Linked DNA regions of Homo sapiens: region 1 is linked to region 2. Evidence: fine-mapped expression QTL. A gene starts in region 2. The other region holds a variant in brackets. All regions are shown on one strand. Distances are between the middles of the regions.

Region 1 (5,369 bases), 63 kb after region 2:
AGATGCCAGCTGGTAATTAGGGTTCATCCAGGATCCAGAAGATCCTGAGTGGCCTGGTGATGGGGCCTGTGTGGGAAGATGTTTTCTCAAACCAGTAAACTTGACAGGGTCTGTGGACAAGGCTGAGCTGATGATGTGGGCAACGAAGTACGTGACAGCAGAGCCTCCTGAGTTTCAGTAGAAAGCAACCCAGGGAGAACTGAGGAAGAATCCATTTCTGTCACAAGTAATGTTTACAAAAAAAAATGGTGACCTATGTCCTGATATTGGAATTCTGTTTCTGAGTCTCAGCTGTGTTGCTGGCACCTAATGGTGGCAAGTGGCACCCTGGAACCACTTGGTTCCACAAACTCAGTGACCAGAATGTGCTTCTGGGTGGAAGAGATTCACTTTTTCAACCTTGTTTTCAAGTGGGAGGAATATATTCTGTATGGCCCAAGCCACAGATGAGAACTGAAGGGGATCTGTTGAGTTTACTTGTACCAAGGTGACTCCGATACTTACTTTTCGTTTTCCTTTCCTTGTAGGTATGGCCTCACATGTGCAAGTTTTCTCCCCTCACACCCTTCAATCAAGTGCCTTCTGTAGTGTGAAGAAACTGAAAATAGAGCCGAGTTCCAACTGGGACATGACTGGGTACGGCTCCCACAGCAAAGTGTATAGCCAGAGCAAGAACATCCCCCTGTCGCAGCCAGCCACCACAACCGTCAGCACCTCCTTGCCGGTCCCAAACCCAAGCCTACCTTACGAGCAGACCATCGTCTTCCCAGGAAGCACCGGGCACATCGTGGTCACCTCAGCAAGCAGCACTTCTGTCACCGGGCAAGTCCTCGGCGGACCACACAACCTAATGCGTCGAAGCACTGTGAGCCTCCTTGATACCTACCAAAAATGTGGACTCAAGCGTAAGAGCGAGGAGATCGAGAACACAAGCAGCGTGCAGATCATCGAGGAGCATCCACCCATGATTCAGAATAATGCAAGCGGGGCCACTGTCGCCACTGCCACCACGTCTACTGCCACCTCCAAAAACAGCGGCTCCAACAGCGAGGGCGACTATCAGCTGGTGCAGCATGAGGTGCTGTGCTCCATGACCAACACCTACGAGGTCTTAGAGTTCTTGGGCCGAGGGACGTTTGGGCAAGTGGTCAAGTGCTGGAAACGGGGCACCAATGAGATCGTAGCCATCAAGATCCTGAAGAACCACCCATCCTATGCCCGACAAGGTCAGATTGAAGTGAGCATCCTGGCCCGGTTGAGCACGGAGAGTGCCGATGACTATAACTTCGTCCGGGCCTACGAATGCTTCCAGCACAAGAACCACACGTGCTTGGTCTTCGAGATGTTGGAGCAGAACCTCTATGACTTTCTGAAGCAAAACAAGTTTAGCCCCTTGCCCCTCAAATACATTCGCCCAGTTCTCCAGCAGGTAGCCACAGCCCTGATGAAACTCAAAAGCCTAGGTCTTATCCACGCTGACCTCAAACCAGAAAACATCATGCTGGTGGATCCATCTAGACAACCATACAGAGTCAAGGTCATCGACTTTGGTTCAGCCAGCCACGTCTCCAAGGCTGTGTGCTCCACCTACTTGCAGTCCAGATATTACAGGTAAGACCGTCCACAAGGAGACAGGAGCTGCTGAATGCCCAGTGGCACTCACAGAGAATGTGCCACCTTAGTCACTGTGGGGAGATAAAATTATATGTCTACAGTTCCTGCCTTCAAGTGATCTTAATGTACTTACGAAATTAGGACATGTGCACATTGCGATGTCAATTAGAAGTCACATTAGAACGGAGCCAGGTAAGATCCGTGGCACAGGTGTTCAGCGTTGGAAGGGCTCCCTGGGACCTGGGGTGCAGAGCAGAAGAGTTCCGTCCTCCCGGATGGGTAGGATCCAGACAGGTGGTGGAGAGAGAGGGATGTGCCATCCACAGTCCGCAGTCACACTAGTGGGAATTTACAGGAGACAAGAAGGACACCCGCCTGGCCAGAACAGTTTGTGAGTGGTGGGAGATGTGAGTGAAAGCCTGGTTGGAACCAGGTCACTGGGGGTCTTAAATATCAGATCAAGGAATTGCAACTGTATCCTCAAACCCAGAGCAAGCCCTGGAAACCTTGAACAACATAAGGTAACGGGTTGAAAGGGATGTTCCGAGAAGGTTCCTTGTCTATCCACGTGCAGAAGGGCTGGAGGAAGGGAGAGACTAGTCTGGGGCCAGCTGGGTGGCTCCTGTGGTAAGGTGACTTCAGGCTTTGGGTCAGGATGAGGGAGGAATGATAGTGTCCGTGGCAGGGAAGTGTGTTCAGTCATGGACTCACACATGCAGTCATTCAACAAGCTTTGATTTCACTTTTAATATGTGCCAGCCGCAGTGCTAGGTATAGGGATATAGACAGGGCCCTTGCCATCCTGGGGTATCTGGAAGCTTTTCAGGGACCCCTGTATGCAGTCAGGATTGGAACCGCTGCCGACATGGAGCTGAGATCGGAGTGCTGGCTTTGGAGTCAGGAAAGGCCAGAGTGAACCTGGTCCCTCCTCTCCTAATGGCCTGATTTCTCCATGCCTTCATTTCCTAACCCATGAAGTGGGAGAAATCCTCTCACCAGCCTCGTGGGCAGCTGGGAGGTAACATGGCTGTAACATGGCTTAGGTGTGTCACTCCGTGGCTGGCCATGGCGGGTGCACAGCGGGGAGGCGGCAGGGATGGAAAGCAAGACCCTGCTCTGTGGAACCAGCCTGGGGGTGTGTTTGGGGTGGTGCCGAACAGTGCAGTGGAGATAGAGGTCACAAGAAACAAAACTGAAACTCCCATGAGAAGATGGGACGGATGCACATTTAAGAGCGTGCCACGTAGGCAGGAAGACCGGGGTCCCCGGAGGCCATCCTGCTTGCAAGCAAGCACGCTCGCTTGCCCGTGTGCTTTCTCCATGCGCCTTTCAAGGCCACAGAGAGAAGGCTGGAACATGCCCCAGGGCCTTGTCGACACAGCTGACCTGTCACCCATTCCTGGGGCTGACCTGGGCCAGCTTCCCCTTCTTGCTCCCTGTCCGGGCCCCCA[T/G]CCTGGCTGCAGGCAGAGCTGTTGCAAGTCTCCTCCCAGCCCCTCCCTCAGCCTGCTGGGCACCAGGCCCTCCTTCCCTGGGAGAGCAACAGCCCCTCCGTTCGGATCCCCAGATGCCCTCCCACCTTCCACCCCGTCTCCTTTCATCCTAATCCTGACTCACACAGGAGGTTTCGAGGCCTCTTCACCCATGCTGTTTCTGTCTCTTCCCTCTTCCCTTTAGGAGGCATTTCCTGAGTTAGAACAGCTCTCTGCGAGCCTCTTCTCTGCCCTGCCCTGAGGATTCCTTTCCCGCTCATTTCCTATGCGCAGAAAGGTCTCCACAGGCCTGTGCTTTCACCACCAGGCCCCGTGCGGACAGACGGGTCTACTGCTGCCCCTCCACTTGCTCTCCACTCCCTCGTCCTGACCAGGCCATCCACTCTGTGCCCCGCTGGCCCCAGAGCCAATGGCAGGGAGAAGTAAGCCCAGGGCAGGAGCCTCCAAGGAAGACAAGAAGCCTCTCCTTGTCTCCAGAGGAGAAGGATGGGCAATGGTTGAGTGAATCTGGAGGGTTGGGTGCCCGGTACCGACAGCACATATTCTCTGTAGAGAGTGCCTGGGCCTCTGAAAGCCAGCTCTGGTGGCCGTCCCGGGTACCAGCCCCATTGGGGGCTAGCTGGTGCTGTGCTGGCTCTGGGAGGCTGCTGTGCCACTTCGTATTTAGGTTGGTAAATTCAGCATGCCAAAGGCTGGCTCTTTCTAGTTCTTGGCCTGAATTCAGGGTGAACAGCCCCTGACTTGGCTGCTAGGGCTTTTATGTAGTTCATCTGAATTGCTGCATCATGAACACGTACCAGTGTTATTAACATTCACTGAAAGCTAGCATGGCGACTTGTAAAAAGACTTCGACAAACTCTGTTTAAAAGGCAGCACATCCTTAGAGCGAAACTTGGTGAATCGAGTAAGCTGAATTGGGGATTCTTAAGACCCCCTTGTCATCTTGCCTTCTGGTGCCCATGTGACGCTTCCTGGAGCCCTCCCTGCCCATCCCCTTGGACTCTGCGAGTTTTTCTTTGCTTTCCTGCCTGGTGCTGGTGCCCCTAGTGCTGAGGAGACAGGTCGCAAAATCGGGGATCCTAGCTCAGGAAGCCTGCGGCAGCAGTAAAAGTTTGCCTGTGAGGGTTGGGGAGGGCTGACTCCTTCACCTGGACTCACAGCGATCCTCTCCTGCCCCCCTCTGTGGGTGAGATCAGGCCTTTTGGACGCCTCTGGTGGGTGTGGTAGGCTGGTTTGCTGGCGGTTCCTGGGCCCTCAGGAGCCCTCTTTTCCCCACTTCGTGACAGGCACAGTCACATCTGGCCCCTGTGTCCCCACATCCCTCTGAAGGACCCTCCGTTTAGTTGTGATAGTACCCTCTTTTCACCCCTGAAATCACCATTGCCTAAAATTCTGAGCAAGAAGGCCTCTTTCTCCTTTCTGTGGTCACCTTCAGGCCCTCATGTCAGCCTCCCTGTGCCCAGCCCTGGTTCCAAAAATACGGTCAGCAGGAAAGACAGCGGCTCTTCTGCCTGAAATGAGGCTTCATTTCTAAGTTGGTGCAATGTTCTGTTTCTCCCTCAGGCCTTGTCTGAGCCCTGCAGTGGTTTGCCACCATATAGATCGATCCGATTTTTCGAGGACAGTCTCTAGTGCTCTGTCTCTTTTCGTCCCAGCTGTGTGGGACAGCCAGCTCTAGGCCATGTTTATCAAGTTGATTTTCCTGGTGGCTTTGCCTCTTATAGGAAAGAAAGGGGGCAAGAAAAGCTCTTTAATTGTCCATCGTTAAGGCCCATGTCCCAGAAAGAAGACGCTTTCAGATGCTTTCAGCTGCATCTGCATCGTGAGGGAATGGCTGTGTGTTTGAGCCGCCTGGGCTGGAGGAGTCATTGCATGCTGTGCATCCAGCCTCCCAGCAGGTTGGCCTTTGTCCTGCAGGTGGTGGGTGGGGACTTTCTCCCCTCGGCCCCCTGTATCTGAGCTGGGCACATTATCGTCCCAGGACATCTGACTTTCAAAAGGTAGAGTACTTATGTGTCCCTCTGTCATTTTGCATGGGACTGGGCTAAGTGTCTCATCCCACCATTGTCCCCACCTAGTGACACAGAAACGGTGTGAGACAAGGATATGTTATCCTCGCCTTGGGGACTTGGAAAAGGAGGTGGTGTCCCCGGAGCCAACTGTTTTCCCCAGCTCTCAGGCATGTGCCTGGCCACAGTGGCTGTTGGTATTCTGTGAGGCAAGCCCACTGGTGTGTTTTTCAGGAAACAAAGGCTGCTTTTTAAG
Region 2 (5,369 bases):
CAGAGGCTGTGATGAGGACTATATGAAATGCCTTTTATCGAGTTTGTAGTGTTGTGCTGGACACAAGGGAGCATGCAACAAATTGCAGCTATCATCCATTCAACAAATATGTGTGCAGTACTCACCATGCGTTAGGCAATGCAGTTATTGGACATACAATCCAAAACAAGAAAAACATGGTTTCTGTCCTTACTGAGCTTACAGTCTAGAGACACCTTGTCCAAAATGGTAGCCACTAACCACCCATGGTTATTAAAATTAAAAATTCAGTTCCTCAGTCATACTAGCCACATTTCATGTGCTCCACAGACATAAGTAGCTACACTGCCATTATGGCAGCAAGTTCTAATGGCCAGCACTAGAAAGGGGCAGAGAGACATGCATGTAGGGTATGTATTAACAGGGAGTTACATACCTGTGTGGTGAAGGCTATGATAGAGATTTACAGATGCAAAAGGAGAACATTACTATTGTTCTCCTTCTCATAATCAAAATACAGACACTGAGGCTCAGAGAGGTTAAGCATTTTGACCAAGATCACATAGTTAAGTGGAAGAGCTAGGATTTGAACCTAGGTCTGACTTACTCCCACGCTATCTCGGGCTGTTTTGTGGAGGAGGTGAGCCAGGCACAGGTAGAATCTGCTTAAAGAGAGAAGATGGAGAAGGTACCCCTCTGGGAAAGTGGGTGGGAAAGTGACCGCTTGGGCAAAGGCACAGTGACAGAGATGGGTGAAGCTGGCACTGGGCTACAAGTAAACCAGTTTGGCTAGAGAAGCAGTGACTTGCTGAACTCATGTCCTTAGAAAGCTAAGTCAGGACTCGCCTGCCTTGATGAAAAGCCAAGGCACTCAGCCCCACCTGCAGAGGTTGAGTCCTTAGAGGATGTTAGCCAGGAGCGTGGCATGGCCAGAACCACGTATTATGAAGATGGCAATATTTAGGATGACCTGGGCCAAGACTAAAGTTAAAGATTGCAGGGAGGATAGAAGGGAAGGAGATAAATGACCGGTGTGGAGCAAAAAACACTAGAGTGGGAGCCACGAGACCTATTCCTAAGCTTCAATACTGTGTGACATTGGGCAACAGATTTTACTTCTCTGGACTCCATTTCTTCAACTCTAAAAGGGCAGGGCTGGCCCAGATGACCTCTGAGGTCCTTTTAGCAACAGTAGTCTAGGATTCTGCAAACGTGAATGGCATTAGGTTAAGAGAAGGGATAGGAAGTGTAGCATTGATTATGGGGGCAAGGAAGACCGCAGAGTACAAGATCACACAGAGGAAGGTGTCGTGATGTACCACTAAAAAAGTGTGAAAGAGCTTGCCTTTTTTGGGAAGGACTGAAGGATGGGAACGGAGGATGGAGACCGGAAAGGATAAGAAGTAGTGAGAAAATCACGAGGTTGTTTTTAAGAAAGTTATACAGTGTTAGAGATCATTATTTTACACAGATAGCTTTTCAACTTTTTTAAACCCACGATTCACAGACGGAAATAAAATTGACATCATGGTCCAGTACACTTGTCCAGTACCTATAATCGAAACAAAAGGTTTATGAAACAATAGTTGCCCTTACTAAGGGCAATGGACTCTAATATTTTCTATTGGATTCCATTTCGTTCTTTTTGAAAGCTGGTTGCCTTCCGCTGCATTTATTTTATGATCTATTACTGTGTCACGACCCACAGTTTTAAAAACAGTGCCTAAGAGGAGACTCAACAAGTCTTCCTAAGTTGGAGGGGATGGCAGGGCATCCTATCCAAGCATCCGGGAGGCAGCTGGAGAAGCAAACCTGGAGAGGCTCCCGGCTGGGGAGAGTCTGGAGAGTGTTTAGCGGAAGCCCTGATAGGAGAGAGCGCTGAGAAAAGCGAGGACCCAGAGAGTTGTGAGCTCCCATTCAAGTGATGGAGTGGCGGCCCTCGGGACAGTGTAGACGCGAGGAGGAGAAGATCAGGGTGGCGTGGAAGCCAGACTCCGGCAGGAACCCAGCGACCACCCCGGGGGCTGCATTTCCGCGGCGTGCACGGCAGGGCTTCGGTGCCTCTGACCTCGTGTGGCTTTCCGAAGCTCCTCCACTCACCCGCCCTCCTCCGGAGCACGGCGCGCGCCCACTCCTTCATTCATTCATTCCACTCCTACCTCCGCGAGCGCCAACCGGCTGTGAGATGGGCGAGCCACTTTGCCAGCGTGGGGCTCTCTTTCGGGTCGGTTCCCTCCCCGCCAGCACACGCGCGAACCCTCGCACCTGGGCACACACGCGCGCGCGTGCACACACACACACAAAGTTCTGGGGGCCCCTCTGCAGACCGGCTCGGCTGCGCTGGGCTCGGAGCCGTGCGCCCGCCGGGTCCAGGCCGGCCCTCTCACCCACTACCCGGGGCCCGCCCTGCGCCCAGTCCCCCCGCGCTGCGCGGCAGCCCCTCCCAGCGCGGTCCCCTCGGGCCGCCGGCGCGGCTCTGCCCTTCGGTTCGGCCTTCCCCGCCTCGCATCCGTGCCATCGGCGCTCGATTGCGCGCGGACTCCCTGTGGCTCTCCCGGCCCCGCGCCCCGCCCCCGCCCCCGCCCGCCGCCCCCCTCCGCCAGCAACTTTTGCGGAGCCCCCGCGCCCAGCCATGCTGAGCTGAGCCCCGCCGGCCCTGGCCGCGCGCTGCCCCCGGCTCCCGCCCCTCCGCGGATCCGCTCGGGGGCCGCGGCCGCTCGGCGCCTCGGCCTCGGCCGCTCCGCCCGCCCGGCCGCCCCGAGCCCCGAGCCCCGAGCCCCCCGCGCCGGGCCCGGGCGGCAGCGGCGGCGGCGGCGGCGGCGGCGCGCCCGGCCCCCTCCCCCGGCGCCGGCCACGGGAGGCGGTGATGCGGGCGCGGGCGGCCTCGGCTGCGCCGAGAGCGGAGACACAGGCTCAAGATGGCAGATTCCGACTGAGGCTGGGGGGGCCGAGCTCGCGCGCCGCTTTCCCGTCCCCGTTGCCATGAACCGCGGACACCCCGGCCCCGATGGCCCCCGTGTACGAAGGTAAGGGGCGCCCGGCCCCGCCGACCCCGCGCCCGCCGCCCTCCGCGGCCCCCGCAGCTTTGTTCTGCCCGCGGCCCCGCGCCCGCAGCCCCCGGCGCCTGCCCCAGCCCCCACCCGGGGCCCGAGGGGGCCGCGACCCCCTCCCTCGCCCGGAAGATGACCGGGACCCGGCGCCGGCAGGGTCTTGCTTCCAGGGCGGGGAGAGGGGCCGGGGGCGCAGGAGGGGAGGGGGCGTGTGCGAGGGTGGGCGGCTGCCCGGGGAGGGCAGGGACGCCGGGGAAGGCGGACCGGTGACTGTGCTTTTTATTTATTTGCGATAAATGAAGGTGATGCGGCTTAGCTTCCACCGCCCCCCCACATTACCTTTCGGAGCACCTCCTTTCCACTTCGCTCTCCGCCCCGCGCCCCTTCCCATTTCTTTCCGCGCCCACCCCACGCTCCTTTATTCTCCGCGAGCCTCCGATTTTGGGGGGGCTGTGGAATCGGAATGCACGGGGCTAGGTGGGGAGAGAGGAGAGAGATGAAAAGTCCATGTCAGAGCCAGGCAGAACAATGAAATAGGCGAAAATCTCCCCTCATTAGCGTGTGGAAGGGGACGTGGACTTTGGGTTTTCCAGCCGGGGGAGCGGCGGAGACGTTTTTCTGGCTCGGTCTGGGTCGATCTGTGTTGTGCACCTTCACCTGGCATCGGGGTATTTTTCCCCATTTGACTGCCTTTAGCAAGAAAGAAAAGAACGCAAGGCAGAAAAGCAGTAGGTCTGCCTCGCACACTGTCTTTCGTTTCTCTTCAGTCCGTTCTGTCAGCTTCCAGCCAGAAAGCAACCCAGAATCAACTAAGTTTTTACACTTCGATGTGTTTTTGTGTGCTTGTAGTAGGAGAAATTTTAAACCCAAGTGTGTCTGATTTTTCAGTCGTTTCATCGTGTAAATGTTTGTCTCATGAAATCATTGAAATCGCAGCCTTCACATACTTTTAGCGTGGGTCCCCCGGCTTTCTTTCGGTTTTGTTCAGATATTCTGTGGATGAAATCGCAAATGAGAGGGGACAGGGTTTGTGTGGCACAGAGGAGGGCACGAGGGGGGAATGTAATCCTCCTGTAAATCCGGAGAACAGTTGTGGCCAGTGAGACAGGGAAGGCATTAATAGTTTTATCTCTGTTATAAGAGGCTGATTAAAAAAAAAAAAACTTAAAAGAAAATCTGTTATTAGTTTCAGGGCTCCAAATGAATTAGGTTTCTGGCCGGAATAAAGTTACCAGTCAGGCCCTGGATAACGAGGCTGTAAATAACCTATAGACTGTAAATATTTTTTTTTCAGACTCTCTTAGAAACAAAGGGGCTGTTTAGAAGGCAACAGAGAGATGTTATTCCAGGGGCTTTCCTCTTTGATTCTGAAGAACACAAGGTCCATTTAACCATTCGACAAAACAAAACGAAATTTCTGATCACTCCACCACGCAGAATAGAACATGCCGGTGGACATGTGAACATGCGGGAGAACCCATGTCGGGCGTTCATTGTTCATCTGCGTCTACAGGAGGGGGCTACAGTCAATGCTCCCACTGTCTAGAGTGTTAAAATGAAACAATTTTCTCTTTATTAAGTACCTCCTTGAGACTCCCTCTGCTGGACACTCCCGGTGAGTTGAGAGAAGGAACTTGGCATTGAATTCAGAACTATAGTAAACGGCTGGTTTCCCTGTTACTAGGGACCGGGTATGTGAGTTGGGGTGTATTTTGTCAACTTTGTGGAAAGCCATCTTGGGAACTGCACTGTTCTCCTCCTGCTCCTTTCATTTTAAATCCATATGGAAGGTAGGCCATGCCCCCGAGGCTGAGACTTGGCTCTCCCCGTTCCTGCTACATTGTTCTTCCAGTTCCTTACGCCAGATAAAGAACTGCAGGTGTGTAGGGTGTTACGGTTTAAGAATAATCATGGATCTCAAAAGTCTCATGAACTGTTTTTATTTGCCAGCCTTCCTTCCCTGTCTCAGGTGACCTCCGCGGTGGCCTCTTTCAGCCCTCAGTTTCCCTCCATCTTGTCCGTGTGCCCTCTTCATTGTTCCTGCGCTGTGCACCCTTTTATTCCGGATGTTTATCTGTGCACCTTTATAATTATTTTTCTAATCTTCCTCCCCATCCCACCTCAACTGGCCCACATCAGTCTGCCAAAAGCCCAGATCTGGGTGTTTTTGAAAGAGATTGTTGGACATGCTCTAAAACAGACAGGTGACTTCTAGAATCAAGGATTAGGTTGCTAGGACCCGCATTCACTCACTGTGATGAGTGTGCCAAGACTCTGATGACCTCCTTTCTCCTGCCGTGGTGACATCCTCTGGGTTCAGGAAACCTGATTTTTCCCCTG

What was found. PIP is the estimated chance that this variant, and not a neighbour inherited with it, causes the effect. A credible set is the group of variants that fine-mapping cannot tell apart.
Region 1: its variant is the best candidate, but not a certain one, in a credible set for the expression of HIPK2 in whole blood (TOPMed, PIP 0.64).

What each region holds. Positions count from the first base shown.
Region 1 is chr7:139,712,174-139,717,542 of GRCh38, reverse strand. HIPK2 (homeodomain interacting protein kinase 2) reads left to right here. Exons shown (of 15, transcript NM_022740.5): 2 at 528-1,611. Among named protein-coding and RNA genes, the nearest start is that of HIPK2, 63 kb to the left of the region's middle. RefSeq lists enhancers at 427-927, 928-1,428, 2,642-3,131, 4,842-5,369. The variant T/G (reference allele first, on the strand shown) is at 3,066.
Region 2 is chr7:139,775,241-139,780,609 of GRCh38, reverse strand. It overlaps HIPK2 (homeodomain interacting protein kinase 2), which reads left to right and starts at 2,612. Exons shown (of 15, transcript NM_022740.5): 1 at 2,612-3,005. The coding sequence starts at 2,987. It also overlaps a transcript of TBXAS1 not described here. RefSeq lists silencers at 2,267-2,496, 2,927-3,016.